Linked DNA regions of Homo sapiens. The protein of the gene in region 6 interacts with the protein of the main gene of each other region in a biochemical or structural test. Each region holds a gene or a part of one and is shown on either strand. Other genes may lie near its edges. The genes, in order: NOX4, CAV1, FCRL3, HSPD1, KIT, PTPN11 and KDR.

The links.
Region 1: the proteins of PTPN11 (region 6) and NOX4 form a complex in vitro, tested with the Homo sapiens proteins (one large-scale study listed by BioGRID).
Region 2: the proteins of PTPN11 (region 6) and CAV1 form a complex in vitro, tested with the Homo sapiens proteins (2 studies listed by BioGRID).
Region 3: the proteins of PTPN11 (region 6) and FCRL3 form a complex in vitro, tested with the Homo sapiens proteins (one study listed by BioGRID).
Region 4: the proteins of PTPN11 (region 6) and HSPD1 form a complex in vitro, tested with the Homo sapiens proteins (one large-scale study listed by BioGRID).
Region 5: the proteins of PTPN11 (region 6) and KIT form a complex in vitro, tested with the Homo sapiens proteins (3 studies listed by BioGRID and IntAct, with this or other methods).
Region 7: the proteins of PTPN11 (region 6) and KDR interact in far-western blotting, tested with the Homo sapiens proteins (one study listed by BioGRID).

The regions. Positions count from the first base shown.
Region 1 is NC_000011.10:89,488,576-89,492,599, forward strand, and holds the start of NOX4 (NADPH oxidase 4), read right to left. Parts: upstream 2,801-4,024; 5' UTR 2,672-2,800; coding exon 2,615-2,671; intron 2,404-2,614; exon of another isoform or gene 2,398-2,403; coding exon of another isoform or gene 2,278-2,397; intron 2,186-2,277; exon of another isoform or gene 2,110-2,185; coding exon of another isoform or gene 2,032-2,109; intron 1,979-2,031; coding exon 1,883-1,978; intron 419-1,882; exon of another isoform or gene 274-418; intron 1-273. UniProt on the Homo sapiens protein: NADPH oxidase that catalyzes predominantly the reduction of oxygen to H2O2. Can also catalyze to a smaller extent, the reduction of oxygen to superoxide. May function as an oxygen sensor regulating the KCNK3/TASK-1 potassium channel and HIF1A activity.
Region 2 is NC_000007.14:116,528,036-116,531,535, reverse strand, and holds part of CAV1 (caveolin-1), read right to left. Parts: intron 1-3,500. UniProt on the Homo sapiens protein: May act as a scaffolding protein within caveolar membranes. Forms a stable heterooligomeric complex with CAV2 that targets to lipid rafts and drives caveolae formation. Mediates the recruitment of CAVIN proteins (CAVIN1/2/3/4) to the caveolae.
Region 3 is NC_000001.11:157,697,970-157,701,956, reverse strand, and holds the start of FCRL3 (Fc receptor-like protein 3 isoform 1 precursor), read left to right. Parts: upstream 1-1,187; 5' UTR 1,188-1,295; intron 1,296-1,371; 5' UTR 1,372-1,467; coding exon 1,468-1,498; intron 1,499-2,244; coding exon 2,245-2,265; intron 2,266-3,327; coding exon 3,328-3,573; intron 3,574-3,987. UniProt on the Homo sapiens protein: Promotes TLR9-induced B-cell proliferation, activation and survival but inhibits antibody production and suppresses plasma cell differentiation. Enhances activation of NF-kappa-B and MAPK signaling pathways in TLR9 stimulated B-cells.
Region 4 is NC_000002.12:197,486,084-197,489,840, reverse strand, and holds the end of HSPD1 (60 kDa heat shock protein, mitochondrial), read left to right. Parts: intron 1-593; coding exon 594-839; intron 840-1,349; coding exon 1,350-1,524; intron 1,525-1,804; coding exon 1,805-1,983; intron 1,984-2,642; coding exon 2,643-2,795; 3' UTR 2,796-3,257; downstream 3,258-3,757. UniProt on the Homo sapiens protein: Chaperonin implicated in mitochondrial protein import and macromolecular assembly. Together with Hsp10, facilitates the correct folding of imported proteins.
Region 5 is NC_000004.12:54,737,957-54,741,215, reverse strand, and holds the end of KIT (mast/stem cell growth factor receptor Kit isoform 1 precursor), read right to left. Parts: intron 2,788-3,259; coding exon 2,659-2,787; 3' UTR 501-2,658; downstream 1-500. UniProt on the Homo sapiens protein: Tyrosine-protein kinase that acts as a cell-surface receptor for the cytokine KITLG/SCF and plays an essential role in the regulation of cell survival and proliferation, hematopoiesis, stem cell maintenance, gametogenesis, mast cell development, migration and function, and in melanogenesis.
Region 6 is NC_000012.12:112,484,947-112,488,446, reverse strand, and holds part of PTPN11 (tyrosine-protein phosphatase non-receptor type 11), read right to left. Parts: intron 1,985-3,500; coding exon of another isoform or gene 1,973-1,984; coding exon 1,818-1,972; coding exon of another isoform or gene 1,814-1,817; exon of another isoform or gene 1,524-1,813; intron 5-1,523; coding exon 1-4. UniProt on the Homo sapiens protein: Acts downstream of various receptor and cytoplasmic protein tyrosine kinases to participate in the signal transduction from the cell surface to the nucleus. Positively regulates MAPK signal transduction pathway. Dephosphorylates GAB1, ARHGAP35 and EGFR.
Region 7 is NC_000004.12:55,112,096-55,115,595, forward strand, and holds part of KDR (vascular endothelial growth factor receptor 2 precursor), read right to left. Parts: intron 3,317-3,500; coding exon 3,186-3,316; intron 2,948-3,185; coding exon 2,779-2,947; intron 2,171-2,778; coding exon 2,031-2,170; intron 1,387-2,030; coding exon 1,209-1,386; intron 1-1,208. UniProt on the Homo sapiens protein: Tyrosine-protein kinase that acts as a cell-surface receptor for VEGFA, VEGFC and VEGFD. Plays an essential role in the regulation of angiogenesis, vascular development, vascular permeability, and embryonic hematopoiesis.

The DNA.
Region 1 (4,024 bases), on a different chromosome or scaffold from region 6:
ATACTATCTCACAAAGCTAAAATCCAAAGTTCAGTTATGGCTTTCTAGGTTATTGCAATAAATTTCCAGTTCTTAGATTTTTATATTAATACAAATACCTCGTGATCCAGAGCAAATTTTACCATTCTATATCTAAAGAGTTTTCTCCAAGTTGTTCATCAAGTTATGTAATAGATGAGATAAAGCTTCCACTGAAAAACGTCCTATTCATTAAGTTACACCTAATGGGGAAATACTAGAAAACAAAACCAAAAAGTTATCAGACCTCATGTGTTTATTAGAAGAAACCTTTTCTTGTTTATTGAATTATAATTATTTATTTGTTGGTTTTTCCATTATATTGTAAGCAACTTGAGGGGCGAGGTGAGGTCTTACTCTCTGGGTGCCCATCTGAAATGTATAGGTTTCAAGACAGTTCCTGGATTGGATGGATGAAAGAAATAAATGAAATGGGTTTAGCTTTACAGACTATTTTTTTCAACCCATTGGCTTAAAACCTAGAAGTTAAACTTTATAAAGTGTGTGATCAACAGATTATGATATTACTTTGTTGTATAAAAAATTAATTAATTAATTCAACTGCAACTTGTTGCAGGCTTAATATGTGCCAATCACTAGTCTGGGTACTGAGAATTACAGATAAATAAGATCTCTCCATGTAAAACATAGAAGGGAGAGCTGGTTCCACTGAATTTGTCTGAGCTCGTCTTAATTTTAAGTAGTCATTAAACCATGAAAAAAAATAAAAAAGCAAAATGTGTTTTTTTCTGCACCCCCCCACTCACCAAAATGCAAAATCTATTTTTTCAGGTTCCCTAAGTTTTTGCAGGGTTTTACACTTTTTGCTTGTTGCTTAGAAAATGCAATCTCAGCCGGGCATGGTGGCTCACGCCTGTAATTTCAGCACTGTGGGAGGCTGAGGCAGGCGGATCACTTGAGGTCAGGAGTTCTAGACCAGCCTGACCAACATGGTGAAACCTTGTGTCTACTAAAAATACAAAAATTAGCCAGGTGTGCTGGTGCGTGCCTGTAGTCCCAGCTACTCAGAAGGCTGAGGCAGGAGAATTGCTTGAACCAGGCAATCAGAGGTTGCAGTGAGCTGAGATCACTCCACTGCACTCCAGCCTGGGCATCGCAGCAAGACTCTGTCTCAAAAAAAAAAAAAGAAAGAAAGAAAGAAAGAAAAAGAAAACGCAATCTCCTTGTGCAAAGTAATATGCCTTCAGTGACACTATCTTCTGTTAAGCAGTCAAATAAGAAGGAGATGGAACAGAAGAATGAAATCAGAAACATCATAGAAAAGAAAGAAAAATATTAACATAAAATAAATCAGAAAAAAGTTTTGCCCAGTATCTTTCTCATATTATAGTAGAATACTGGAATATCATCAGCCACTAACCCAAAGCAAGCACTGAGAACTGCCCAGAAATGAATAACCCCATTAGACCCATATTTTGTGAGAGTTGTCAGTAAAAACAAACAGTGCAGAAATCCTCTGGATAAGCTCATGAGCAGGCTAAAAGCACTGATAAGTATATACTAAAAGCTTGTTATTGGTTGATCCTCCTAGTGAATCAGATCCTTCAGGGTACTTAGCAGCTGGCAATAAGTAGCAATTTTTTTAAGGCACCAATAACCTGGTCTGGCAGGTTCATTCGTTTCACTTCAGCAGATATTACCTTTGGTTCTTGAGAGAGTCAATCTTTTTAACTTGTACAAGTGTAAATGATAAATCAGGAAAATGTGACCACTTTAGAGAACAACAAAGGTTTTCAAAGTGAAGAGTGCACATTTCTTTAATGAATGGAACTGACCAAACCTGTAGCAATGTCTGCCAGTGTTAAACCCATTCCACCAGATTATCCAAGTTCACCTTACTTACCCCCAACATCTGGTGGAGGTAGTGATACTCTGGCCCTTGGTTATACAGCAAGAAGGTTTTCCAGAAAAGCAGGACATTCATGGAGAGCCAGATGAACTAAACCAATCAGACATGAGAGACAGAAAACAAAAATTGAAAATAATTATTACCTGATGAATAGAAACCACAGGTAAATTCTTCGACACAGTGCTTTCAATGGAACCTAAATCAGTAACTGCAGAAAGCATTTTCAATTAACCAGCAAGCTGAAAACCACTCAGAGGAAAACAAATCTGACTTTACCCAGCCCTTTCACCTGAGACTAAGCATTTGGGTTGCAAATAGGTTTCCTAAATGATTTACAGCTATCCCCTGCCGTACAAAATGAGATTAAGAAATTAATGACATCACCATACCCCAAGCAAACAGAAGTAATCTGGGAAAAGAACAAAGGGAGCAAAAATGTTTAAAGGGTAAAAAGAAAAGCTGTATTCACGGAAAATGACCTCTTCCCTCTTCCTCCACATCTCTCCCATCAATGTGCAGAAAAATTCTCATGCATTTGGGGGACAGGCGAGGGGGTGGGAGGGGGAGTGTTCATTGTTATCTCCAGCATAAAGTTTTGTAAGTTGAGAATGTTCGAATTAAGACAAAACTTCCACTTCCAGCTTCCCACCCGTGCACGCTCAGAGAATGAATCAAAATCACTGCAGGACAGAGAGAACGCAAGGAGAGCCTAGCCCGCCATCCTACCAGGCAGAGGTGTTTAACCCCTTCGTTGGCGAGCCAGCTCCTCCAGGACACAGCCATGCCGCCGGCCCCGCCGCGCTGCGCTCTGTGCCCGCCGGACCGAGAAGGAGCGGGCGGCGGCCGGGGCAGCGGTTACAGTTGTGCGGCCTGCCGGGCCGCTGAGCGAGGACCGAGGGTCAAAGACTGAGTGGAAGCCCGAAGGCCCGGCGCCGAGCCAGCCCGGGCGGGGTCTGCTACCCAGAGCCGGGTTTTCCGGGCGCCCTGACTCCCACCCGCACCGGGTCAGCTCTGCCCACTCAGCTGCCCAGACGCCCAGCGCTCTGAGCGCGCGGCCCAGGCTGCACCAGTCTGCTCCGCCGCGCCGGCCCCTTTGTCTAGGGGCGAGCCTGTTGTTGTGGCTGCTGCTGTTCAGGATGTCCCGGGTGGGAACTTGGAGGCGTCCCCCGCAGCCTCTACCCAGGCCTGCCAGGCTCCAAAATACTGGCAAACATGTGAACAATGCTACTCATACTAAAAGTGGGGACCCTCGCCGCCCCCTTGTACACACACACACACACACACACACACACACACACACACAAGAAGACACAGCTCTTTTAGACTGATTGTTTTCCCCCAAAAAAGTTCATCTCAAAGAGCCTTGGTAACGAAATTTGAGCCGGAAACAGCCTTTTGTGTGCTAGTTCACGTTTCTCCCACCCTTCCTCAGCAAATTATCCCACTCCCAAACTAAAGCCCCCCTGACAGCCTTACCTAAGGCTTCCCACCAGCCGCCAGTTTCTTTATCCCCTTGCCCGCCCATCCCATACTGATAAAAAGGTTTTAAGACATTACTGAATAAGAAGAACCCAGGGAATTAATGGTTAAAGCTGATGTAATTCTTAGGGGCTCTAGGTTAGGTTCACTCTATTCGGGAATCTTTTTGTTTTAATACCTAGTCTGTTTGTAAGTAATAGGAATCCTCTCAATCTTGTACCAGAGGTCCAGTGAAGAGTGAGAAGTGTGTGGAGTTGACCCAGGTACCTATTCGACACTGCAACAAATCAGTATTAGAAAAGAGAGAGAAAAAAATGTCATTCATGTAGAAAAAAATCTGATGCAAAATAGATATCCAATAAAGGTTTGTTAAACCAATAACTTTTCTAGATTTAACAACTAATGAGAGACAGAAAAGTTTACTACTAGTTGCTTAATCGAATGGCTTTTAAACTCTTAAAATAAAAAATCTTACAACACAGGCCATAGGATATAATTAAAACTAAAATTTCAAAAAATACTACTACTCTCACTACATGCAATATACTTATTCCAATTAATTTAATGAACTGATTAATGATTGCAGTCCTCAGTTTTAAAAATCAAAATGAATTCATATCAAGTCCCTGTTAGACTTCACACAATTTTCTAATAGCC
Region 2 (3,500 bases), on a different chromosome or scaffold from region 6:
ATGACTGTTATACTGATATTAATCACCAATTGCTCTAGAATGCTTTCAAGTTGAAAGGGATCACGGAGGCATTAAACCTTTGTACTATAACCAAAACTGATCTGATTATCACCTGCGTGCATTTTCTTGACTGTTAAAGAAAAATTTGTGTCTGTGCATATTTAAGAATCATTACATTCCAATTTTAGAAAAGCAAGTTATGAATGCATATTTCTGTTTTTCAACAAAGACCTCCTTTCAGATATCCTGATTTGTCTCAGTGCTAACAGAATCATCTAAACACATTTTTCCTCTCATGACAATAGTCCATGGTGAATCACATAATCTTATCTATTCTTCTTTAATGATACATTTCAAAATATTCACTTTGGGCAGTAACTATGTAAAAAGATGGATAACATTTTAAACTTGTTAGCCCTTAATTTCTATTAATATTACAAAAGAGGAATTGGAGGCCAGCCTGGTAACCATGATGATCCCTTCAAATTCTAAAATTCTGTCATTTTGTGCATGTATGTTTCGATCCACAATGCCACTTCGCATTGTCTTCATTTCACATCTGGACCATGATGCAATTACATCTGAACTCTTTTCTGCTCAACTAGACTGGCTACTTTTCATTACCTTCTGTACCTTCACCAGAGTCATTTTACAAAAACGTCACCTTCATTATACCACACCGATGCTTGCAGTCATTTATGGCTGTCCACTGTTGACATGATGTCCAAACTTATCATGAGTGCTGGATTTACAGACTCCGCATTTTACTATGATCAGTCTTTTCACCTTTATCACCTACCACTCTGCCACATGAAATCTCAAATCCCAGTCTGATTGAGCTACTACAACTCCCTTGTGGGAGACATTCTTGTCTCCATGCCTGGCTCGTTTAGAATGCCTTCCTGTGCTTTTGCCCCAGCTATTTGCAATCCATCTGTCCTCCATGACCCAATTCAAACTGCACCTCCTTCATACCATTCTCCATTAAACCAGCTGCAATACATCCTCCTTCTCTGACCCTGCTATCCTTTTCATGGCTGGGTCTCCCTAACACTTCATATTGATACCATTCCCTATTTAAAAACCTTTTTGTTATGCAATATTCAACACTACTGTATTTACTTTTGATTCCTTATCATATATATTATATTTGGTCTGTTTCCAAAATGATGAGAAGGCTTACAGTAGAGATCACATAAGACAGTATGTCAGTTAAAAGGGGGAAGTGAAAATACAGAACCATATGTGGGAACATGAATTAATGAAACTTAAAATCCAGCTATAGATTTGAAACTGCTTCCTGGCAGTCAAGGCAAAAAAAAAAAAAGGAAAAAGGACCAATCAGTTTCCATGTAGCAGTGACTTACTGTTTTGGTTGTATGTATGTATTTTTTAAAAACACTTTTTACCTGTGTGCATGTCGTCTCACTAACTGTAATCTTTGTGATTGCTAGGATTTATTGTAGGAATTACATAGCAAAGCATCTAATCTAGCATATTGCATGGGTTTAATAAATAAATTAATTGATGGCTAATTTTATCAGAATTATAGATTTGAAGCCATTTTATTTATCTAGAAAATCAAAATAAGTACATAATAAACATGTGAATAACAATGTGAACAAAAGATGACACAGAAATCTCAGAGGGAGAATGAAGGGTTTGAGTTTGTGACCACTTTAATTAAAGGAAATTTTAAAAAGTATTCACAAGCTACTTAATATTTTTGGGTAAATGTCTATATTTGGGTAAATTGTCTCATAATGTGGAGCAGCAAGCTTTTAGTAAGATGAGAAATTAATTTTATTGGAACTGGATTGTATACTATAATGTGTGTCATTATTACTAGTAAAATAGGTAATAATGCTGCACCTTCTTGAATATAAACTCATGCCACACATGAGTTTTCTTTCCTCTCCAGAAATGAAACTGGGGTTTCATTTCTTCTCTAGAGTTTTGTTGTTGTTTTCTTTAACTTGGCAAGGGGATGCTTTTACAATGCAGAGAACACCCTAATCTGGCACTGTCCAATAGAGATTTCTGTGCTGATGGAAATGTTCTATGTCTGTGCCACTAGCTTTACCTGTTGCACACTCACAACGTGGCTAGTGTGACTAAGGAACTGAATTTTAAATTTTACTTGATATTAATTACTTGAAATTTAAATGGAAACACAAATGGCTAGTGATTACCATATTGGACAGAGCAGCTTTTACAGGGCTGCTTGCTTTTAGGACCAACTTTTCCTTACTTGATTGGGTACCTTTAACAGTAGATTCCATTGGCCACTGGTTCTTTCTTATTATGTGAAGTTTTAAGCTACCATGCATTAGCAGTAAAGCTTTGGGTGCTTTTAAGAAGCACCCAAAATTATTGTCATGATTTTTTTAAGAAGTCTGTGTTGTTGGCCAGGTGTAGTGGCTCACATCTGTAATCCCAACACTTTGGGAGGCCAAGACCAGTGGATCACTTGAGGTCAGGAGTTCAAGACCAGCCTGGCCAACATGGTGAAACCCCGTCTCCACTAAAAATACAAATATTAACCCGGCATGGTGGCGTGCACTTGTAGTCCCAGCTACTCAGGAGGCTGAGACAGAAGAATTGCTTGAACCTGGGAGGTGGAGGTTGCAGTGATCCCAGATCATGCCACTGCACTCCAGCCTGGGTGACAGAGTGAGACTCCGTCTCAAAAAATAAATAAATAAATAAATAAAAATAAAAATAAAAAAAGTCTATGTTGTTGAAAGTAAAATTTAGGGAAATTTATTATTTACTGTCATGGAAACTGGGAGAGAATCATCCCTGTTTCTGTTATTTTGTTTGTGCTTGGACTTGAGGATACATATTTATAAAATAGGAGTCTCCATAAGATGTAGATAGGACCCTGTTCATCGGCCAGGCACTCTTTGGGCAGAATTTGCATTTGTAGTCTTGGTGTCTCTCTGTAGGGCATTCTCTGAAGTCCCCTCTAGGCCAGGCATCTGAGTGAGACTGCCAAATTCTTTTCTAGGTGGATTTTTTGGTTTGACTGTCTTGTTTTGCTCACAGTTCTATGAGCAAGTAGTCAGGGTTTGGTTTCTTTAGGCTAGCAGGAGCTTGCTCTAGCTTTTTCTTTTAATTTCTTTAATTTGAGGATCCCCACACTTGCTCTTTGAAATGCTGTTTTGTAAACTGCTATTTCCTCCAAGCCTGTTATGTTTTTTTTCCATCTGTGTTGAAGTCTCTTTTCCCAGTGGGGCCTTTCTTTCTCAACTTAGTCATGCTATGTGTGGAGACCCACATCCACACTGTTGGCCTCTCTGACTCATCCCGGGAGATTCGCTTGCTCCAGGGAATCTCACTCACAGTGCAGTGGAACAACAGGGAGGATCCAGTGAAGCCAGCCCTCTCTGAAATCTGCCTCTTTTCCTGGCAACTCTCCTTCTTGTTCAAAGCCACATGAGAAGGGTGGGGGTGGGGGAAAACACAAATATCCTCTCCCTTTAAGGTAATGTTTTTAG
Region 3 (3,987 bases), on a different chromosome or scaffold from region 6:
GTCCTTATTGACAAATTGGTATGTGACAAGTGCTCTGTTAGGCATTGAAACAAAATGAAGAACAAACCAGGCTTGTTCCCAAACCTTGTAATACTATCTAATGAGAAAAATAGGCATTATACAATCACATAAACATATAGAGAATGATAAAATTTGGTGACTTCCATGGGAGAAAGAACATAATAATATTTGTTAAAAAAGAGGACCCTCTTTCCATTACCTGCCAAGGTTGGGCACCCTGAGGATGGGACATTTGATCTGAGATCATCTCCCATTTCTAATGTAAAGGTATCTGAATGATGACAACTTTATCCTGGTAGGTAGATTCCCAAGAATGGCTTACCTCTAAGTCTAAAACACGCCTTCCTAACAGAAGTTATATCACCTTCAAAGGGGCAAGAATTGACTCTTGGGAAGATGAAAAAAACTAATTTTTTAATGTATCAAACACAGCTATACATGCAGCACATAAACACATACATAGTATATTTGTGGTATTAAATTTTCATGGAAAAAGGGGGTGGCTAAAAACAAAATTGTCTAAAAAAGATCCTTAGGGGAGCAATAACGAAAAAATGGTTGAGAAACACTGGTTCAGAGTTTTTATTCAATAGTCCCTCAAATAATACTTACTAAAGGAATGCTTTCAAGAAAGAACAGTTAGAGGTGCGGGGGATATAAGGGGTAAGAAAAGGGGCCCTTAAATGTTAGTGGGAAAGAAGACACGAAAGCAAACAAGGAAATAGAGAAAATAATTGCAAATTGTTATAAACACTGTGAAAAAAACACAAAGGACCTGAAACAAAATAATGGGGTGGAACCTCTTTGATTGCAAAGCCCTTTCTGAGAAGGGCTTTGGCTTTAAAAACGGTGGTACGCTTGCTGATTTATCTCCTAATTTGCAGATCTGGGTGAGATTACGGGAAGTCCTTGATCTGTACATTTGTATTATTTTCCTGTTCAGAAGCCTCATAACAACTTATGTGAAAGTCAAAAAGGCATATGCTTGACACCTTGACTGTGTGATTCACACCACGCTCATTAAGCTTGCCTACATTAGGAGCTGCATGCAGAACCAAAGGCTGTGTGAAGACAAGGTAGTGAAGGGGTTTCCCATATGAAAAATACAGAAAGAATTATTTGAATACTAGCAAATACACAACTTGATATTTCTAGAGAACCCAGGCACAGTCTTGGAGACATTACTCCTGAGAGACTGCAGCTGATGGAAGATGAGCCCCAACTTCTAAAAATGTATCACTACCGGGATTGAGATACAAACAGCATTTAGGAAGGTAGCCACATTCACATTTTCAGAGCCCAAAGCAAAATATGACACTAAGCTCTTCTTCCCTTTTCTGATTCTTGCAGGTCTCATCTGAGTAGCAGCTTCCTGCCCTCCTTCTTGGAGATAAGTCGGGCTTTTGGTGAGACAGACTTTCCCAACCCTCTGCCCGGCCGGTGCCCATGCTTCTGTGGCTGCTGCTGCTGATCCTGAGTGAGTAGATGGGCTATAATGGGGCCACGGCCTCAGTTCCTAAAGGTGACCAGGGAAAAACTCAAGGAGCTTCTATCTCTGCTTCTACTTGGGGTTCAGAGACAGATAGCAAGGGATGGGAAGTGAGCAGAGCTGGGTTCCCTGGACAACCAAGAGGCTCCAAATGCAACCATCAGAGCAAGCCAGATATCCTGACCTTGGTTTCTCACCCACTGCTTTTCTCACCTCATAGGAAACTTGGATTTTTCCTTCTGCCAAACCACAACTCTATATCCCACCCTCCCTCTTAAGCCTCAGACTAAATAATTTTTCAGATGAGCAGTTACTTCTAAAAACCTAGGCACGTGAAGGAAGGTTTACTGAGAAACATCACTGTTTTCTAGAAGTTTTAAGCCAAAATTTAATCAGAGATTGAAAAAGTGAGGGGAACAATAGGAGCCCAAGGAACGAAAGGAGGATAAACCATTTCTGTAAGTCCTTGTCTGCCTCTGCACTCAGAGAAGAGAAGGAGAGAATAAAGTGTGCCGTGGCCAAGTAAATAATAGCAGAGATGAGGTCAGGCCTTGGACATAAGCCATCACGTTTGTAAAATACATTATATGACATTTTCTTTGTTGTTTAGGGGCTCTGGATGATATAAAAAGGGAGCAAAGAAATGATAAGGAAAAACAAAAGAAGTGGTTGTGGTTAGGTTGTTAGAAAATGTTTCGGAGAGTGTCTGATTGTCATTTTCTGCTCCCTCACAGCTCCTGGAAGAGAACAATCAGGTAAGTTTCTCCTTCTCTCTGCCCCTCTGGTCTCTGGATATTGGTCCCCTCAGCCCACACAGCCTGCCCTAACCCTTGCAGGCACGCATCCCATCAGCAATGCTAATGCTCTGGGGTCACATCTGCTACTATATTGGGTGAACAGAGCCTCCTCCGACTTTTTCAGTCTCTAGGTTTTTTTTTTTTTTTCTCCCTACATTACCGGTATTCCTCAGACTACAGGAAGGAAACACTTGCAGAGCAAAGGACAGAGGCAAGAGGCTGATGATGAAGGAATCTCATATGTGATCTCCATATTCTCTAGTACATCTCCCTCTGAATGTCCAAGCTAGTGCTGCTATCAAAGGACATAGAAATAGATCCCATCCACGGAGGAAGATGCTACAGCAGAATCCTTATAAATCTCCAAAAAGAGCTCATGCCACTGCCACACCTCACTTCCATGCCTGTCAGTCAGTTGCAATTCCATACACAAGTCTGACTTCTCAGGCAACCCATCCTCCTCCATTTAAATTCTTTATATCCCTCCATTGTTTACTGTGTCCAACTTAAATGGAGAGTAAAGTTGCCTTCCCCATAGACTTTCAAAGCTAAGAGAGATATAAAAGTAATACAAGTGAGAAAATCTTATTCATTTTAAGTGTTAACAAGTAGGAAGTAATTTTCTGGAGTCTAGAAACTACTTCTGAGGTATATACATCCCAGGTTCACCTTTATCTGGACAGAAATGTATAGGACAAGAGAATTTCAGGATCAGCCACATTCTGAGGCCTTCGCAGTTTTTGCCCAATGGCAAATCACATCTCCTGAGCTTTTCTGAGGCTATGCCAGGAAACTGAGACCTCTCCCCTATAATACCCTTCTGCCCACCTCCAGGAAATGGATGAGGAAGAACAGATTCTTTCCCAGGCATTTCCCTAGGTTATTTCTGCTCAATTTTCCACCCTGGTCCTGACTGGAAATTAGTCCAGGAAAACTCCTGACTGTAGGTTGGGCTCCCCATGTGCTGTGCCCACCTCCCATTGACCTTCCCCTGCCTTCATCTTTCTATTTCCTGTTTAGGGGTGGCCCCAAAAGCTGTACTTCTCCTCAATCCTCCATGGTCCACAGCCTTCAAAGGAGAAAAAGTGGCTCTCATATGCAGCAGCATATCACATTCCCTAGCCCAGGGAGACACATATTGGTATCACGATGAGAAGTTGTTGAAAATAAAACATGACAAGATCCAAATTACAGAGCCTGGAAATTACCAATGTAAGACCCGAGGATCCTCCCTCAGTGATGCCGTGCATGTGGAATTTTCACCTGGTGAGGAATGGAAGGGGAGTGTCTAAAGTCAAGCCACCAGGCAGAATGCCTGAGGGCCGGGTTAATGCAGGGATCCTAGGCAGAGTTGTAAGCAGACATGGGGATTGATGCACTGACCCCAGTGGGGAAAATAAAGAGATAGGGCAGCAGCATGATGCTGGATTGTCTATCCATCTACCTCCAAAGAATTGTGGGTGACCCAGGGGCCATCAGGCAAAAAGGGGTTCAAGTCTGGGATTCCTCTTTTGTGAAAAGACATGTGAAGATTTCTCAAGAACATTTTCTGGGAATTGGTTCACCCTTGTAGGGCAAGGAAGAATCAGGTATTTGGGGCCACATGGCAATGTGGGTGGGGGCCATTTGCAGGTGTGTATAGAACTGTGGCTCTTGCCTCATGGGTGGAAATGAAAGTGA
Region 4 (3,757 bases), on a different chromosome or scaffold from region 6:
ATCTGTCACCCAGGCTGGAATGCAGTGGCACGATCTTGGCTTACTGCAACCTCCACCTTCTGGGTTCAAGCAATCCTCCCGTCTCAGCCTCCCAAGTAGCTGGGACTACAGGTGCAGTACCATGCCCAGCTAATTTTTTTACTTTTAGTAATGACGGGTCTCACTGTATTGCCTAGGCTTCTCAAACTTCTGGACTCAAGCAATATGCCTGCCTCCGCCTCCCAAAGTCCTGGGATTACAGGCATGAGCTACCGAGCTCAGTTTTGAAAGGTAGAAGTGTATGCTACAAGGGATGTAGGACTTGAGAGTCAAGGCCTATGGTCTTGTCCTGGCTCTACCAGTAAGTGTGACCTTCGATGTTTTTTTCTCAAGTAAGGCTGGTAATAATTACCACAGTTGTGAGAATTGAGAATTTGGAAATGCAGTGAAAGAGACTATACTCAAGTCTTGTTCTGGACTAACAGTGATCTTAAAATCTCTCATTTCAAAGAAATAAAGTATTTTGATGATTCTCTTGCATGGTGTATTAATAAACTTGGTATAATGGCAGAAACTGTAACCTACAACAGGTTTACGTTTAACTCTTTTTGTAGGTGTTTGGAGAAGAGGGATTGACCCTGAATCTTGAAGACGTTCAGCCTCATGACTTAGGAAAAGTTGGAGAGGTCATTGTGACCAAAGACGATGCCATGCTCTTAAAAGGAAAAGGTGACAAGGCTCAAATTGAAAAACGTATTCAAGAAATCATTGAGCAGTTAGATGTCACAACTAGTGAATATGAAAAGGAAAAACTGAATGAACGGCTTGCAAAACTTTCAGATGGAGTGGCTGTGCTGAAGGTAACATTCATTATTATGAATAAGTTTCTTGGGTTCTGAGTCCAAGAATGATTTTGCTTCTGTAGTATTCCCCAGTAGTACCATAGAACTAAACGAATACTTGAGGAATTAACTTCATAGTGGAATTTTGTTTGTTTTGTTTTGAGCTCTTCGTCACCCAGGCTGGGATGCAGTGGTGCGATCTCGGCGCACTGCAACCTCCGCCTCTTGGGTTCAAGCGAATCTCCTGCCTTGGCCTCCCGAGTAGCTGGGATTACAGGCACTTGCCACCATGCCTGGCTAATTTTGTATTTTTAGTGGAGACAGGGCTTCACCATGTTGGTCAGGCTGGTCTCAAACTCCTGACCTCAAGTGATCCACTCACCTCAGCCTCCCAAAGTGCTAGGATTACAGGTGTGAGCCACCACGCCCACCTCAGGATTGCTTTTTAAGTAAACTGCTTTTAAATGACTTGGCAATTAGCATCTTGAATGAAGAGGCCATACTAACTGGAATTCTTTTCGTCTTTAGGTTGGTGGGACAAGTGATGTTGAAGTGAATGAAAAGAAAGACAGAGTTACAGATGCCCTTAATGCTACAAGAGCTGCTGTTGAAGAAGGCATTGTTTTGGGAGGGGGTTGTGCCCTCCTTCGATGCATTCCAGCCTTGGACTCATTGACTCCAGCTAATGAAGATCAAAAAATTGGTAAAAAGTTACCTTTTAAATGAGTTTGTGGCCTGATTTTAGTTTTTCTTAGAATAATAATGTTGCAGTCCCCTAAATGGAATAGCACATTCATTTCCTGAATAACAGAAGTAGAATAGTGCTAATGTCAGAGCTAAACATGCATCACATCTTTTTCAGAGGAAATGATTTGATCTGTAGTAGGATTGGGATTTCCCTACATCAATATCCTCACAACTTATAAATGTGTTACAATATTTACAAATGAAAGTATTAAAATTTTGCTGAAATTTCTCTGTAGGTATAGAAATTATTAAAAGAACACTCAAAATTCCAGCAATGACCATTGCTAAGAATGCAGGTGTTGAAGGATCTTTGATAGTTGAGAAAATTATGCAAAGTTCCTCAGAAGTTGGTTATGATGCTATGGCTGGAGATTTTGTGAATATGGTGGAAAAAGGAATCATTGACCCAACAAAGGTAAATGGTTGAACACTTTCTAAAAATTCTTTTGTTGTTCATTTTGTTAATGTATCCTCACATCCCAAATCTTTGATTTTGTCACCAGAAAAATAGTCTAATAGCAGTAGCAACAGCAATAGCTCTTGTGCCCATCAACAATTCTCATGTACATTTCCAGCACCTAGATATTTAATACTCCACTAAAAGGAAGCAGGATCCCTTGAGTAGCAGTTGAGTCCATGCCTGGAGGCAGGAAAAAATCAGGATGGATCTGGAACACCCTGTTCCTGCCTGGCAGTAAGAATACTTTCCAAGATACGCAGAACAGGGTTTTGTTTTGTTTTGAAGACAGAGTCGCTGTGTCGCCCAGGCTGGAGTGCAGGCAGTGACAACCTCCACCTCCTGGGTTCAAGCGATTCTCCTGCCTCAGGCTCCTGAGTAGCTGGGATTACAGGCATGCACCACCATGCCTGGCTAATTTTTGTATTTTTAGTAGAGACGGGGTCTCATCATGTTGGCCAGGCTGGTCTTGAACTCCTAACCTCAAGTCATCTACCTGCCTCAGCCTCCCAAAGTGCTGGATTACAGGTGTGAGCCACCATGCCCAGACAGAAATTTTCAATAAGTCTTGCTCATATTTTACTAAGGGAAAACTAATTAATTAAATTTTTTTCTAGGTTGTGAGAACTGCTTTATTGGATGCTGCTGGTGTGGCCTCTCTGTTAACTACAGCAGAAGTTGTAGTCACAGAAATTCCTAAAGAAGAGAAGGACCCTGGAATGGGTGCAATGGGTGGAATGGGAGGTGGTATGGGAGGTGGCATGTTCTAACTCCTAGACTAGTGCTTTACCTTTATTAATGAACTGTGACAGGAAGCCCAAGGCAGTGTTCCTCACCAATAACTTCAGAGAAGTCAGTTGGAGAAAATGAAGAAAAAGGCTGGCTGAAAATCACTATAACCATCAGTTACTGGTTTCAGTTGACAAAATATATAATGGTTTACTGCTGTCATTGTCCATGCCTACAGATAATTTATTTTGTATTTTTGAATAAAAAACATTTGTACATTCCTGATACTGGGTACAAGAGCCATGTACCAGTGTACTGCTTTCAACTTAAATCACTGAGGCATTTTTACTACTATTCTGTTAAAATCAGGATTTTAGTGCTTGCCACCACCAGATGAGAAGTTAAGCAGCCTTTCTGTGGAGAGTGAGAATAATTGTGTACAAAGTAGAGAAGTATCCAATTATGTGACAACCTTTGTGTAATAAAAATTTGTTTAAAGTTAATAATTGTGTTAGCATTTCCATGATTAGAAGATACTGAAAATTGAAAGCCAGTTGAAGGGCAGGCTGGCATGTGTGTAAAACATTATCCTATCTATGATATTTTCATGTTTCTCTTTGTTGCAGACTGAACTACATTATTCCATTGATAATGGGGAAAGACAGTTTCTATTTTCCCCGGTGCAAGGATGTAATCTCTCTTGGAGCTGTAAAATCTGGGAGGTTGGAGGGAACTCCAGCTCCTCAGCATGGCCTTTGGGCTGCTGCTGCAAGCAAGGCATTGAGGCAAATATTTTTGCTGTCCTTACCTTGGACAGAAGTAGAGGGGAGAAATAAAGTCCATCATCACATGAAAAGTCAGTCACTTGAAATCCTGTACCTAGAATACCTTTGGCTTTGGTAATTTCGTTGTGTTTGGGGTACAAAAAAAAGGATCTATTTGATAGCACAACGGGGTGACTATAGTCAATAATAATTGTACATTTAAAAATAAAAGAATGTAA
Region 5 (3,259 bases), on a different chromosome or scaffold from region 6:
ACAGGTCACTTTTCACCCCTTCCCTTTCCTTTCAGGAGACATTTCTGCAGGTGTAGATGTCACGTCAATAAAGACAGTCATGACTGAGGGTGTGTGGGTGCCTCATTCTTAATAAGATTATGTGATTCAGGGTGCTTCCTTTTGTTTCAAGCTGAAGAACTCTCAGCCTCTGTTTGGGTTCCAGTGGTCTGGACGGTACCAATTGGGCATGCATAATGTTTCACCCACATGACAGCACCCAGCTCATACATACTAAGCACCTTCTCTGTATCTATTTTTCAATTTAAATAGAGACCTCAGGTTGTAAGACTAAAATGAGAAAATATCACACGTATGAAAATTCTTAATATCTGTTGAATCTCGAAGCATGTAAATCCTAGCGTGATCTGATAGCCCTGCACATATTTTATGAAAACTGCGTACAAAACTTTGTCAGGATGATTGCACTTTAATGCTTTAAAGTTTAATCTCAACGAATCTCAACAATCAAATGACTCCACTTGATTTATATATGTACATTTTATTAGAATTCTTCAGAACTGTCAACAATTGGACAACATACAGGAATAAAACACGTGGAACACCAACATCCTTTAAACTTACGCCGCTTATGTATTTACACATAAAGTTACTGTATATATAAAAAATATTTTCAAGGACTCATGGGCTTGGGAATATTCAAAAGACATTATTGCTACATTTCAATATTTACAAAAAAAGCCACAAAATAATTTCAAACATTAAGCCACTGCAAAGAAACATCTGATGTAAGAAAAAATTATAAAAATATAAACTTTCAAGAATATCCAAGACAAAACTCTCAATGAAGTGCCCCTGAAGTACCTAGACATCTATAACTAACAACCACTTTTCTTACTATCATTGAAGTCAATAGAAACACAAAGGAATTTTTCAGACAAAGTATGGCAAACAACAATCTCTTGGGTGACAACACAACCCCAAAATCTGTTAACTTTGGAAAGGTGCGAGAGCATAGAACTCCAGTGCAAATGGTTACTTCCAGATAACGGCCACAGTTCTCTAAATGTAGTCTAAGAAATGTAGAAGGGGGAAACCATAAAGGCAACATACCTGAATCTTTCAAGACAACACACAAACTCTGCCATGTACACATTTGCCTTTTATATTGGGCAGTGAGGAAGGGGAGTTTTTTGTTTTGTTTTGTTTTGTTTTTAAAGAGGTAAACTACAAGAATAATATCCAGGCTACAGTCTAAAGGGTAAAATTTAAATGTTTCAGTGAGACAGTAGCATTATGGAAGGTCTAAGGAACAGGTACAGTAAGATGAGTCTAAATAACAGAGTGCCTTAAGTGCAGGTGAACTGCAAATACATAGGGACTGATGCCTTCCACTTCCTCTGCACCACTATGGAAGCTTCTGGTAAGCTACTCTAGACAGCTATGTGAAAAGAAACAAGAGCAGTACTAATAATGAAAGCCAAGTTACTTTTCAGGTACTAAAGGACCCTCTTGGACTCAGGGCAAAAATACCCCTCCAAATATTTGTCTACACACATACAAACGTACATACACATATATAGATACTGGCCCGGTGTCCAGGACATGCCTGCGAAGGAGGCTAAACCTATACTTTATTTCCTGCTACATAAGAATCCAAACTAAGATGGCAGTGTTTTCCCACTCCTGTGGGAGCCATGCAGTGAATCAGTAACTTTGTCAAACAGCATCAAATCCATTGAGTACAATGCCATTCTGAAGCTGATAGGCTTGTTCCACAGAATCTACAGAATAAGTTCATCAGCTAAAAGAGGAGATTTTGTTCAAACTGTGCTTTGTGGTTATATTGTTTCCTTAAAAAATGGTATTAACTGTTTCCTTCAAACTTATATGGCTCTTAATCTACTTCTATACACAGTGGACATAATGCCAGGGTTGTATACAGAAACGAAACCTTATGGTGTTTTCCCCTCAAATGTATGAACACGGACAATTTATAGATGCGTATATACAAGTGCTGGCTAGGGAGGCCTTCTCTCCAATTCAATGCTCTAATAGCAAACTCTATTTAAAAACCAGGTCGGTAGTATAAAAGCTCATGCAGTGGTCCACAGAAGAGCATCTTTTGTTCACACTTGGGGATCATTTTTTTCATGGCCTATGTCTCATTCCCAGCATGAAATACTAGATTTCTTAAGCCCAGGTGTTCATACTCTGTCCTTTGTTCTAATGATGTTCTGTTTTCCACATAAAGGACTTAGGTTTTCAGCTTCTAATCTTGTATCATCATACTACTATGGATGGTTCTGAAGGCCAACTGTGATTACTACCATTTATTCAGGTAAACTATCAACCATATTTTTGGGCAGAATTGGAGAAGCCTTGGAAAGGACTCTGGCCCCCAGTCCATACCTCCCTCTCTTTTTCCAAATCAGAATGTTTTCTGTTCATGGTAGAAGCTACGTTGCTATTGGGAATATATACAGTTGGAACCTTTGCAATAGGATGGTGGCTGATGACAAAAATCATCGGCCACTAAAGTGTGCTCAGAAAGACAGGATTGCAGTGGGGTGCCCACTATCCTGGAGTTGGATGCAAGTTGAAAGAAAAGAAAATAACCATCATGGAAGCCAAAAGAAGAGATCATTCCTGGAGGGGTGACCCAAACACTGATTCTGCTCAGACATCGTCGTGCACAAGCAGAGGCTGGGAGGAGGAAGCGGTGCTGCCGACAGAATTGATCCGCACAGAATGGTCTACCACGGGCTTCTGTCGGTTGGGGCTGCAGTTTGCTAAGTTGGAGTAAATCTGGAGAAAACAAGCCCATAGTCAATACAGCAGTCCCTACAACGAACATAGCAACAAAAGGCATACTTACAGTGTCAAGATCACAACTAACTGATGGAAACTCTTAAGAGAGAAGTGGTTTCCAAGAACTTTGTGGCCAAAACCCAAGTCATACTGACAAAACAAATATAAGCTTTGTTTTCCCCCTTCATTTTTCCAAGGAAATAACTTTATACAAGAAGTGGGGACAAAACATGCACAAGCTTAGCTCTTCTAAAAGGGCACACCAGGCACCAAGCACTATCTTACCTATTTAAAAGGCTTGTAAATCTCTCCAGCAACTACAACCCAATAACCAATGTAATTTGCTGGGAAACCCACGGCCCTTCCAGGGGTCTCTTGTCAAGAATCAAAGCAACTGGGTGGAAAATGCTGTTCAATTTGAAACATGTTTTGACACCCAGAAGAACAAGCTTTAACCCAAAAATTATCA
Region 6 (3,500 bases):
AGCACTGCGGGCAGAAGGACAAAAAGCAGGGACAACAGAATCATTCATGGGGGTTTCAGACTCAAAACCAAGCCATTAATATCAACAGAAACAATGTCTACTCTTTGGAGCTATTTATAAAATTGTCTATTTATGTTTGAAAATATGTTGGCAAAAAGCATAGGGCTTTGGAGTCAGCCCAAACCTGCTCTTGGAGTTCAGCTTCTCCAGTACAACGTGCCTGAGGTAAGTCCCTTAACCTCTCTGACCCTTAATTTCTGCATCTGTGAAATGGGGACAACAGCACATACCATACAGAGTGCTGGTTGGACAGAATGAAACAGGAATCATATACAAAAAAATACATCAAAATTACTGAAAGAGGGCCGGGCGCAGTGGCTCTCACCTATAATACCAGCACTTTGGGAGGCCGAGGCAGGAGGATCACTTGGGGCCAGGAGTTCCAGACCAGCCTGGCCAACATAGCAAAACCTCGTCTCTACTAAAAACACAAAAATTAGCCAGGCATGTTGTCACGTACCAGTAATCCCAGCTACTCGGGAGGCTGAGACATGAGAATTGCTTGAACCCAGAAAGCAGAGGTTGCAGTGAGCTAAGATCGCTCAATTGCACTCTAGCCTGGGTGACAGAGTGAGACTCTGTCTCAAAAAATAATAATAATAAAGTTATTGAAATAGAAGAAGTAAATAATTTTAAAAATTAAAAACAAAACAAAACAAAAAACATTGTGCTCAGAGGCTGGCTCAATAAATGGTAGCTTCTTTAACAACTGGACAAATAAACACTTTCACATATATCTACTTGCCCAAGAAATGAATGAGATTTAGGAAACCCAATATTCCCCAGTATAATCATGAAGCCCAAACTGGAGAATCAGCAGCCCACAGACTCATTACAGAGGTCACAGCACAGCTTCCATCAAAGGCCTTGGTGGAAAAGCAGCTGGAATCTTGTGAAGCAAACAAATATAGTGTTAGGGGAGAAATATATTTATGGTAGAAGAGAACAGAATGGGCCGGGCATGGTAGCTCATACCTGTAATCCCAGCACTTTGGAAGGACAAGGCAGGTGGATCACCTGAGGTCAAGGGTTCGAGACCAGCCTGGCCAACATGACAAAACCTTGTCTCTATTAAAATACAAAAATTAGCCGGGCGTAGTGTCAGATGCCTGTAATCCCAGCTACTTGGGAGGCTGAGGCAGGAGAATGGCCTGAACCCGGGAGGCGGAGGTTGCAGTGAGCCAAGATGGCACCACTGCACTCTAGCCTGGGCAACAAAACAAGACTCTGTCTCAAAAACGAAAAAAAAAAAAGAGAGAGAGAGAGAGAGAACAGAATCACAATCAAAGAGATGAATCATAGAAGAGTAGAAGAAAAGAAGGAAAAAGAGAACCAAGCAAAAATGACTTAAGGGATCCTCAAGAGTCAGGCCTATTTCCACCACACCCCCACCACCTCAATACCTACAAAGCAGTCAACAGCTACAAAGCAAACATCATGAAGAATAAGGAGAAACTGCAGAGCCAGGATGAAGTTGTTTAATGCACAACTTCTGGTGGACTCAGAGATAATGCTGACTTAGTCTTTGCTGTTTTAACTGAGCATGTTGCCATGGCCATGGCCAATGGCAGTGCTGTAGGGTCTAGGAGAAATATGCCTTGGGATCAAAATGTCCCTCAATGCAGTTGCTCTATGCCTCAAACAGATATTAAATTCTTCCTACAGTTAAAGAGCTAGGAGTGGGTAGGTAAAAGCAAGCCCTGGGCGCTAGGAGACAGGGACAGGCTGTGGCCTAGAGGGGCAGCAGGAGCTGTCACCTGCAGTGCACCACGACCGGCCCTGCATCCATGATGCTCTCCTGCTTATGGTGCACCTCCTCCAGGAAGTCCAGCACGCCCCCAGGGTCGCTGGGCACGCCGTGGTCCGGCCAGGTCCGAAAGTGGTATTGCCAGACCGTTCTCTCCGTATTCCCCTGGAGTAGAGCCAAGAAAAACCAGAAAAGAATTAAATAAATCAAGAGGTTGAGGAATCACCCGGTTCTAAGCTTTCCTAAATCCAATGGAGAGGAAGAGAATCTCCCCAGGTTCCACTGAAAGGTCCTCTTCGTGAGGTTCCCAGAACTCGTCTCCTTTTGGGCAATCCTGGAGGCAACTCTTTGCCTCTGTCATAAGAACCAAGACGTCTGGCATGGCAATTTGTTCTTTCAGGTAACTATACCCTGAATCATCTCTCTGAATTACCAGCGACAGGTAACATCCCTATTCCCCTGCATCCCTGTGGCACTCAGCTCTGGAGGCAACTGAAACCTCTAGGGATCCAGGTCTCTCCTCCCAGCAGAAGAGGAAGCAGATGGGGAAACAGGCATTCACTTAAGACATTCATTCCTCTTTGTTATTTTTTTGATACTCAACCTTCCCCACCATATAAACACAGACTATAGTATCATTCTTTTTTTTTTTTTTTTCCAAGACAGAGTCTTACTCTGTTGCCCAGGCTGGAGTGCAGTGGCGTGATCTTGGCTCACTGCAACCTCTGCCTCCCGGGTTCAAGCCATTCTCCTGCCTCAGCCTCCCAAGTAGCTGGGATTACAGGCACACATCACCATGCCTGGCTAATTTTTGTATTTTTAGTAGCGATGGGGTTTCTTTCGCCATATTGGCCAGGCTGGTTGCAAACTCCTGACCTCAGGTGATCTGCCTGCCTCGACCTCCCAAAGTGCTGGGATTACAGGCGTGAGCCACCCAGCCTGGCCAGTATTGTTCTATTTTAAACTTATATTTAATGCAAAGCAGATAAGAAAACAGGCTTTGCTATCAGATGACTAGATTTAGGCTCCAATTCCAGGCACTCACACTCACGTGGCCCTTGGGTATCTCTAAACCTCAATTTCTTCATTTTGCAAAATGCAAATAATAATCTCTTTCTCTCTATCATAATGCAATTTTAAGGACTCAGTGAGCTCGCTGAAATACTCAGCCTCTGCCCAGCAAATAGGAAGAGACTCAGCACATTATGGCTATTTTGAGGATAATGATAATTAATAAAGATCAACAATGGCACCAAGGCTACAGAAAACCAAAAAGTATCATGTTTCTGGGTCTATCCAGATGACGTAATTGTAGCAGCACCATTCATTCCTACATCTTCTTCCTATATATGTAGAGACAATCTAAGCTAAGTGACTTTTTTTTTTGAGACAGAGTCTCACTCTGTCATCCAGGCTGGTGCACAGTGACCTGATCACAGCTCACTGCAACCTACGCCTCCCCGATTCAAGCAATTCTTGGGCCTCAGACTCGACTCCCGAGTAGCTGGGACTACAGGCATGTACCACATCCAGCTAATTTTAGTAGAGAAGGAGTTTCGCCATGTTGGCCAGGCTGGTCTTGTACTCCTGACCTCAAGTAATCCACCCACTTCAGCCTCCCAAAGTGCAGGGATTACAGGCATGAGCCACTTTGCCCAGCCTTAAGTGACATTTTTAAAAGGGATGTAAAAGG
Region 7 (3,500 bases), on a different chromosome or scaffold from region 6:
AAAATTAAGGTGATTTTCTCAAGGCCAGTTCAATTTAATTCCAGTTCAATTACAGTTGACCCTTAAATAACACAAACTTGAACTACATGAGTCCACTTATAAGCAGATTTTCTTCCACCTCTGCCACCCCTGAGACAGCAAAACCACCCCCTCCTCTTCCCCCTTTTCCTCAGCCTACTCAACGTGAAGACAAGGATGAAGACCTTTATGATGATCCACTTACACTTAATGAATAGTAAATATATTTTCTCTTCCTTACAATTTTCTTAATAACATTTTCTTTTCTCTAGCTTTATTGGAAGAATACAGTATATAATACATATAACATATAAAATATGTGTTAATTGACTGTTTATGTTATCAGTAGGGCTTCCAGTCAACAGTAGGCCATTAGTTATGTTTTGTGGAAGTCAAAAGTTATACCTTGATTTTTTTTTTTTTTTTTTTTTTGAGAAGGAGTTTCACTCTTGTTGCCCAGGCTGGGGTACAATGGCACGATCTTGGCTCACTGCAACCTCCACCTCCTGGGTTCAAGCAATTCTCCTGCCTCAGCCTCCTGAGTAGCTGGGATTACAAGCTCCCACCACCACACCAGGCTAATTTTTTGGATTTTTAGTAGAGATGGGGTTCCACCATGTTGACCAGGCTGGTTTCGAACTCCTGATCTCAGGTGATCCACCCACCTCAGACTCCCAAAGTGTTGGGATTACAGGCGTGAGCCACCGCGCCCGGCCTATACATGGATTTTTGACTGCAGAGGAGGGAAAGTTAGGGGAACTCCCCTGAGTTCCCCCAATCCCTGAGTTGCTCACAGGTCAACTGTATATTGCTAAATGTTTCCCCAGTTTGCAAAGCTCATGCTTATTCAAGTAGGCCTCTCAGCCTTGCAATAAAATGAAAATTTAAAAACTACCTTAGCTAATACTATTTATCATAGTAACAATCCTAATAGCAGCAATAACTATAATAAGTAATACTAAATGAACTCTTACTGTATATCAGCACATCTCATCTTTAAAGTTGAGGTTTGAACCCAAGTTCCTGACTACAAAGCTATGCTCTTGACCTCTAGGTCATGTGGCCTCCCTAACAAGAAAAACTAGAAACTATCTTCTGAATGAACAAAATAGGAATCACTAAGTGACCTAAATTTATTTAAATTATCTCACTTGTCAAGGCACAGAATAATTTCCAAGACCATAGCTTACCATGGACCCTGACAAATGTGCTGTTCTTCTTGGTCATCAGCCCACTGGATGCTGCACAGGTGTACAATCCTTGGTCACTCCGGGTTACACCATCTATAGTTAAGGTGCTCAAAAATTTCTTCATCTCACTCCCAGACTGGGTTTTTAGGTCTCGGTTTACAAGTTTCTTATGCTGATGCTGAAAAAAAGAGTTGACTGAACTTCCAAAGCACAGCATATAACATTACCCAATAACTTCTAGTAACACACAGAATTAAATCTGGGCTTTGGTAAACATTATTTAATGCTAAAAACAGGGACACCAGAACTTTTAACCTCATGCAGACAACAAATATATTTTGTTTCAGGAGAAATAAATGGAACCAACTGAATTAGGATTTTTAAAACCTCACGTGGTGAAAGTGAGATGGATATAAACTGCAGAAACACAAGTAAATGTGACCACTGTTTAAGGAGCAGTGTATCTCATGCCACCTCTTAAAGAGAAATTCCCTTAAAAGGAATGTAGATCAAAAACTTTGGAGAACAGAGAAATGACATAATGTGGAAAGATGTAATCACCTAGAGAAAACTAATATTCATAGCCTGGCTATTGCAGAATAGGACAAAATTCCTGGTATTTCACCTTTTGGTGGGTGCTATCTGTTCTGCAATTCCCTTAAATTGTGTGTGTGTGTATGTGTGTGTGAGTGGGTGTGTATGTGTGTGTGTTTAAGGCTCTTACATTTTATCTGGCCAAAGAGGCCCCTATCTCTCAAGCAAACTTCACTGGGGCTTATTATCTAAGTATTTGGAGGTCTGGCTTTGAATCATTAGCGTTACCTTCGAAGAAGGGTATTCCCAGTTGAAGTCAATCCCCACATTTAGTTCAGTTCTTGCTGTACAATTTAAGACAAGCTTTTCTCCAACAGATAGTTCAATTCCATGAGACGGACTCAGAACCACATCATAAATCCTATACCCTAGAGCAAGTAAATTGAAAAAACAGAACATGAGAGAGCAAATAAGCCTATAACTTTGCACAGATTTATTTTTTAAAGTAATGCAACTTTAAAACATGCCACATTGTTTTTCCCTGCAGGCCTCACCAATACTTGGTAGCTCCCAGGAAAATGGCCAACAGAGGTTTACAAAGCACTACCTTCACAGATCTCAAAGATGTTGTAACCCAGTGGACAGAAAAGTAGTAAACTTTCAGTGGTCAGTAGCCCTAGGCCAGTAGGGCCAGCTTTAGCAAATTGCTGAAGTTTCCATAAAATAGTCATAATTGAAATAATTGATAGCAAGCAATGCTCTGAACATTGAATTCTTCATAAAATGTGCTCGAGTAATACCATTCGCTTTCATCCTTTTTTTAAAAAGTTTTCTTTTTCTTCCTTAATCTTGGCAAGAAAAGAGACAACCTCAATTGCACATGGGTTTATTTGGTAGAGAAGAGCAGATGAATTGCCCAACACCATATCCTGAGTTCCTATACTTTTCAATATCCTTCTTCACTCTATGTTGTTATCTCCAAGATCTTAATACAAGGATATGTTATTAATGATATGGAAAGGAAATGTCCTCTTACCTACAACGACAACTATGTACATAATAGACTGGTAACTTTCATCATTAATTTTTGCTTCACAGAAGACCATGCCAGCATAGCTGATCATGTAGCTGGGAATAGTAAAGCCCTTCTTGCTGTCCCAGGAAATTCTGTTACCATCAGGAACAAATCTCTTTTCTGGGTATCTCTGGGTAATAAAAAGACATATCAAATATTTAATCCAGTACCAAAAATGAGAGCCATGTACAATGATCACTGAAGAATTCATCTTATTTTTAAGAATACTAATTAGTTTTATTCATTGCATTTGACCCTTCCTAAAGGATCCTTAAAACTCATTGTGAATATTATAAACAGGTTACCCATCTTAATATTAGCTTAAAATTATAAAAACTTAAGAGACGATTGGAGGAGATGCAACTTACTGCACAAAGTGACACGTTGAGATTTGAAATGGACCCGAGACATGGAATCACCACAGTTTTGTTTTTGTTCTCAGTAATGTACACGACTCCATGTTGGTCACTAACAGAAGCAATAAATGGAGATCTGTAATCTAGAAGAAAATTTAGTTTTATTAATGAGTTAATAGTATTTACTAGAAAAGTTGGTCATTTTTCAGGTTCCTAAACTCTAACCAGACAAGTGAATGACTGGAAGGGACACCTCACACAACCAAAGGCATCCACAGATTATTCTGCTGATAGATATCTGTGCTACATGAGGGTGTGTGTGTATGT